Linked DNA regions of Homo sapiens. The protein of the gene in region 1 purifies or fractionates together with the protein of each later gene. This does not show direct contact. Each region holds a gene or a part of one and is shown in the gene's direction. Other genes may lie near its edges.

Region 1 (3,500 bases):
TCTCTTGGACACAGGTAGACAGTCAACTCCTACAGAGTGGCCACCAGCCACAGTGGAGAGGTACACACCAAGAACCAAACAACATAATGAGATGAGTTATTACACACTGCTGCTCATACTGGAACTCTGTGCTCTGCTGGAGTCTGCCCAGGGACACTGTGTCAGGAGGGTTCAGCCTGTGTTGATGGGCTGTTTTCACATCAACTGCCCTGCTGACAAGTCTCGCTGGAGTTGCATCCTGGGCCACCCTCAAGGATACAAACACCAGGCTCTCCCGGTCACTATTGCCTCTGAGTTCTTGCTCACTGCTACATTGCCCGTGTCTTCAGACTGCACATCCCAAAGGGCTTAGCTTCCCAGCTGGAAGTTGGTGGAGGGAGGAGGGCAGAGAAATGGAAGGACTGGAGCCAAAGACCTCACTGGACTCAGAGTTGCCTTTCCAGCTTTTTGGAGACAGCCTCATTCAGACAAGCTCTGGAGTTGGTCAAAGCTTGGTTCAAATCCTGACTCCACCACTTATTAACGAGGTGAGCTGGGCAAGTTGCTTAACCTGTAGGGACAGCAGCACCCTGAGGCTGGCTGGAGGTCTGAATGAAATGATGTGTGCACTAGTCTGGCCTAGAACAAATTCCTCAGTTAGTGAGAATTTCATGACTTTGTGCTGTAGTTTGGATGATTGTTTCCTCCAAATCTCATGTTGAAATTTGATCCCCAGTGCTGGAGGTGGGGCCTAATGGGAAGTGTTGGGTCATGGGGTGGATCCCTCAGGAGTGAGTGAGTTCTTAACTCTGTTAGTTCCCTAGAGAGCTGGTTGTTAAAAAGAGCCCAGCAAGAACCCCCTGCCCTTGCTTCTTCTCTTGCTATGTGATCTCTACACACCAGATCCCCTTTGCCCTCTGCCGTGAGTGGAAGCAGCCTGAGGCCCTCACCAGATGCTCAATCTTGAACCTTTTAGCCAGCAGAATCATGAGCTAAATAAACCTCTTTTCTTTTCGGTCTTTCTTTTTCTTTTCTTTCTTCTTTTTTTTCTTTGAGATGGAGTTTTCGCTCTGTTGCCCAGGCTAGAGTACAATGGCACAATCTCAGCTCACTGCAACCTCCACCTCCTGGGAAGCAGTTCTCTTGCCTCAGCCTCCTGAGTAGTTGGGATTACAGGCGCCTGCCACCACCTCCGGCTAATTTTTGTATTTTTAGTAGAGACGAGGTTTCACCATGTCGGCCAGGCTGGTCTCGAACTCTTGACCTCAGGTGATCCACCCGCCTCGGCCTCAGCCTCCCAAAGTGCCGGGATTAAAGGAATGAGCCACCGCAACCAGCCAAACCTCTTTTCTTTATCAATTAGCCAGCTTTAGGTATTCCTTTATAGCAACACAAAACGAACTAAGACACTTTGATTATTTGAGTCAGGTCCAAGAAGAACATTTAGATATTCAATAGGCAGACAACCTGGGCCAAAATTATAGGCTATCATAGTCTGTATAACCAGGTCTCTAGTGGGAGACAGTAAGATTATTTTTGACTTTTGTTACCTACACATTGTGCTTTGGTTACTGTCCCAGTGCAGTCGACTTTGGGGACGTGTAAGGATATCTGTGGAAGAAATTCCTAGAAGTGAAGCTGCTCAGTGAAAAGCCGTATGAAGTTATTCTAAAAGACACTAGAACAAGTTTTTAAAAAATGTTCTGTGAGCAAGTGCCTGCACACACATGAATTTCCTGGTAGCCAAGGAACTGACTGGACCAGTTTTATAACAACTTAATTGTCATGCTCAGTTACATTTGAGATGGGAATGAGAACACCCCAGTGGTCTCCTGGGGATTGCAGCTATCTTCATGACCGGGTGTTATTAGCCAAGACTGGGCTGCAGTTTGCCAGTCTGTGAAACTAGAGCTAGATCTCCATGGAGGGAAACCTGGCAGGGCCCTGGCCTTTAATCCCTGCTGAGAGATGGAGGATTACTCTGGAACTGGCTTGGAAGTTTCTGACAGTCTTATCAGGTACTTCAGCCTTGGGCTACATCTGTCAGAGCTAAGTCCTTATCTTCACGGAACATAGAAGACTTTTTTTTTTTTTTTCTGTTGCCCAGGCTGGAGTGCAGTGGCATGATCTCGACTCACTGCAGCCTCTGCCTCCCAGGTTCCGGCAATTCTGCTACCTCAGCCTCCCATGTACCTGGGATTACAGGCACGTGCCACCATGCCTGGCTAATTTTTTTTTTTTTTTTTTGTATTTTTAATAGAGATGGGGTTTCACCATGTTGGCCAGGCTGGTCTTGAACTCCTGATCTCAGGTGATCTGCCCACCTTGGCCTCCCAAAGTGCTGGGATTACAGGTATGAACCACTGCACCCAGCCTAGCAGACATTTTTCAAGTTGTAAACAATGCTTGGATCATCTTGCAGAAGCCCACCACAACCCGAATGGTGCCAAACCCTCAACATAACTTCTTCTAGCCTCACTGGCCTCTGCCTCTATGGGAAATACAACTCAAGTTCCAGGCAGGAACCTGGAATACTGGTGGGAAGGTATGTCCCACTGGCATCTTCCCCTCCTTGCCCTAGTTGCTAGAGACTGGAAACAACCCAAATGCTCATCATTAGAATGTGGAGAGAAAAACACAAGGATCAGAACAGTACATATGGCATGCAACCTTTTGGCAAAATAAAATGAAATAGGGATGGTATATAAATACACACTTGCATATTCATAGATTACTTCTGGAATAGTGCACAAATACTGGTAATAGTGGTTGCCTATGGGAACAGAACCAGATTCAAGGGTAGGAGAACGACTTTTTACATTTTGTTTTACTTTATTGTGTGCTTCATATATTATTTATCTAAATGTAAAAATATTTTTCAGCTCTACTGAGATATAATGTACATACCATCAAATTCACCAGTATCAATTGTATAATTCAATGGGTCCTGTCAAATGCATGGTATAACATTTCCATCACCCTGCGAAGTTCCTCCAGATTCCTTTGTAATAAATCCATACCTCTTAGCCCCTGGCAACCACTGATTTGCCTTCTGTCACCGTAGTTTTGCCTCTAAGATATTTTAAAAATAAAAACAATTTAAAGCCAGGTATGAATATAGCCCTTACTATTTTTGTTGCATTAAAACAAATTTCTCAAGTATAGACCCCGTCTTCAAAAAAGCCTAAAGTTACTTCCTGCAAGAATGTGGTTGTGTAGAAGGGATGCAGTAGAAGTGTTAAGTTGCTAGGAACTGAGGAGTTGATGACCAAAAAACTGACTTCTCGACTTGGAGCAGCTTTTCATGAAGAGCAACTTGCTGTGATTTGTTTTGTTTTGTTTTTTCCCTATCTACTTTTAGGGCCTAGCACTGAGCAGGCCTAGAAAATTTGATTTATTATTTGATGGATAACTGGAGATCACCTATAAGAGCAAAGCAGAATATAGTGGAATGAGGATTAATGCTTCATCGCCCCAAATTTTCTAGCTAGTTTTGTTCCCATCCTCCTCCTTCTTCCTTA
Region 2 (3,500 bases), on another chromosome or scaffold:
ATCCCAGCTACTCGGGAGGCTGAGGCAGGAGAATTGCTTGAACCCAGGAGGTGGAGGTTGCGGTGAGCCGAGATGGTGCCATTGCACTCCAGCCTGGGCAACAAGAGCAAAACTCCGTCTCAAAAAAAGAAAAAAATCTGAAAGCTTCCTTCCCATTCCGGAACCCCAATAAGAAGTATGTGATAGCATATCAAAAGAAGAGTCATGTTTTTTCTTTTTTACTTCTTTGGTCAGACATGAATCATTATCTTAAAAAGAATTAATAGAAGTGGCGTCTCACTGTGTTGCTCAGGCTGGTCTCGAACTCCTGGACTCAATCAGTCCTCCCACCTCATCCTCTCAAAGAGCCGAGATTATAGGTATGAGCTACCGCACCTGGCCGAAGAATCATCTTTCAGCCATCTGTTTCGTTCTGTCTGATTCTCCCATGACAAGAACTTCTGTTGAGTCTGCTACTTTTCAAGCCTACCTTGATCTGTACTTTCTCTGAGTCATTGTGTAGGACAAAGGAGGACCACCGGCTGGGTGCGGTGGCTCACGTCTGTAATCCTAGCACTTCGGGAGGCCGAGGTGGGCGGATCATCTGAGGTTGGGAGAAAGAGACCAGCCTGACCAATGTGGAGAAACCCCATCTCTACTAAAAAATACAAAATTAGCTGGGCGTGGTGGCACATGCCTGTAATCCCAGCTACTTGGGAGGCTGAGGCAGGAGAATTGCTTGAACCCAGGGGGCGGAGGTTGCAGTGAGTCGAGATCACACCATTGCACTCCAGCCTGGGCAACAAGAGCAAAACTCCATCTCAAAAAAAAAGACCACTTTTGTCATGCCACTGCACTCCAGCCTGGGTGACAGAGCAAGACTTTGTCTCAAACAAACAAACAAAAAAACCCACCTTTTTCTGCATCCACTCCTTTTTTTTTTTTTTTTTAAAGCAGCTTTATTGAGGTATAGTTCACATACCATAAAATTCAACCTTTTAAGGCATACAATTCAGTGATTTTAGTATATTTACAAAGTTGCACAACCATCACCACTATCTAATTTCAGAACACTTTCATCACTCCCAAAAGAAATCCCATATCTGTTAGCAATCATTCTCCATCTCCCTCCTCCTCTCCTCCTCCCTTGGCAACCCCTAGTCTATTTTCTGTCTATGGATTTGCTTATTTTGGACATTTCACATCAATGGAATCATACGTGGCCTTTTGTGACTAGCTTCTTTTGCTTAATATGATGTCTTCAAGGTTCATCCATGTTGTAGCATGTATCAGGACTTCGTTTCTTTTCATAGGTAAATAATATATCCTTGTAGGGATATAACACATTCTGTTTATCCATTTATTCACTGATGGACATTTGGGTTATTTCCACTTTGTAGCTAATTTTGGAAAATATTACTATGAACATTTTTGTACAGGAATTTGTGTGGACATATGTTTTCATTTCTCTTGGGTGTATACCCAAGTGGAATTGTTGGGTCTTAGGGTAACTCTTAGATTTAACTTTTTAAATTAAAAAAATTTTTTTTTGAGGTAGAGTCTCACTCTGTCACCCAGGCTGGAGTGCAGTGATGTTATCTTGGCTCACTGCAGCCTCCGCCTCCTGGGTTCAAGAGATTCTCCTGCCTCAGCCTCCCGAGTAGCTGGGATTACAGGTGCCTGCCACCATGCCCGGCTGATTTTTGTATTTTTAGTAGAGACGGGGTTTCACCATGTTGGCCAGGCTGGTCTCCAACTCCTGACCTCAAGTGATCCAGCTGCTTTGGCCTTCCAAAGTGCCGGGATTACAGGCGTGAGCACTATGCCCGGCCTGTGTTTTTAACATTTTGAGGAACTACCAGTTGGTTGTACAAAGTGGCTGCACCATCCTGTATCCACTTGACCTCCATAGTCACTCACAGGAGCATTTTTCGAATCAAATACACATTTCACAGTTTTCTAGTTTGTTAGAATTTTAAGTTGAATTTTTCCTAGTCTAGGTGCAAACCGGCATTTCATCCAACCAATTCCTTCCTTTGCCATTGTCTCTCATATAATTTCTACTCTGGACTTTAGACTTTGAGTTGAAAGGAACTTTGAAAGTTCTTTCCTCTATACTTTAAATAGCCTTCCCTGTAAAACAGACATTTCCTCATATGTTCTTGTGTGTTGATCATTCAGCCTCTGTTTGAACTCTGCTGCTGTGGGGCTCTTGGTAGCTCACAGAGCAACCCTTTTCTTAAAAACATTGAGCCTTTGGTCAGCTTTCCTGAGGACTAAATTTTATCACGCCTTTGTATTTTTGCAGGCATCCAAGCCTACAGTCTGTTGTTTTTACCACCTCACACATTAAGAGAGACTGAGAGCACTGAGGCCTAGGCCTTGATTTCTGTAGATTTCTTAGGAAATCTGAGCCTAGCACAGGGCTACACATGCAGTGTTTGGGGGACAGCCACCCAGACACATGCAGAGTCAATATCCTGGTTCCAGGAGCAGGGCTTAACTTAATGAAAGGGACTGGAAAAAACACGAGAATTTTCAAACTACAACTAGTTTAGAAAAGTGACATTTTTCTTTTTTTTTTTTTGAGACAGGATCTTGCTCTGTTGCCCAGGCTGGAGTGCAGTGGCACAATCACAGCTCACTGCAGCCTCAACCTCCCTTGGCTTAAACTATCCTTCCACCTCAGCCTCCTGAGTAGGTGTGCACACCGCCATGCCTGGCTAATTTTAAAATTTTTGTAGAGACGGGATCTTCCTATGTTGCCCAGGCTGGTCTCGAACTTTTGGGCTCAAGCATTCTGCCCTTTTTGGCCCTCCAAAGTGCTGCGATTATAGGCGTGAGCCACCATGTCCAGCTGACATTTCTTCATTCATTACATTTTTGTTATGCTAGTTGGCTAAAAATGTGCTTTGTTAAAAAGTAAATTATTTTTTCTAGTCCTTTGATTTTATTTAACTATTCCTCAATTACCCAATCTTCAAACATATAAAATGCTTAGAAATATGTCTTTAGATTCAAAGTGAATTTTAAAACTCAGTAAAAATGAATATCTTCTTTGTTTACATACTTAAAGTATAGCAAAGAAATTTTTATTCAAGCTGGAGTGCAGTGGCACGATCTCAGCTCACTGCAATCTCCGTCCTCCCAAGGTTCAAGCGATCTGCCCATTTCAGCCCCCTGAATAGCTGGAACTACAGACACACACCACCATGCCTGGCTTTTTTTTTTTTTTTTTTGGTAGAGATGGGGTTTTACCATATTGCCCAGATTGGTCTCAAACTCCTGGACTCAAGCAATCTCCCTGCCTCAGCCTCCCAAAGTGCTAGGATTACAAGCATGAGCCACCATGCTCAGCCTAACATTTTTCTTTCTTTTTTTTTTTGAGACAGTGTCTCGCTCTGTCACCCAGGCTGGTGTGCAATGGCGTGATCTTGGCTCACTGCAAGCTCCTTCTCCCAGGTTCATGCCATTCTCCTGCCTCAGCCTCCTGAGTAGCTGGAACTACAGGTGCCTGCCAC

Evidence for each region. Proteins that work in one complex are often made in the same cells at the same time.
Region 2: the proteins of CDCP1 (region 1) and CLSTN1 purify together in Homo sapiens (affinity purification with mass spectrometry; one large-scale study listed by BioGRID and IntAct). This does not show direct contact.

Annotation. Positions count from the first base shown.
Region 1 is NC_000003.12:45,136,379-45,139,878, reverse strand, and holds part of CDCP1 (CUB domain-containing protein 1 isoform 1 precursor), read left to right. Parts: intron 1-3,500. UniProt on the Homo sapiens protein: May be involved in cell adhesion and cell matrix association. May play a role in the regulation of anchorage versus migration or proliferation versus differentiation via its phosphorylation.
Region 2 is NC_000001.11:9,813,966-9,817,465, reverse strand, and holds part of CLSTN1 (calsyntenin-1 isoform 1 precursor), read left to right. Parts: intron 1-3,500. UniProt on the Homo sapiens protein: Postsynaptic adhesion molecule that binds to presynaptic neurexins to mediate both excitatory and inhibitory synapse formation.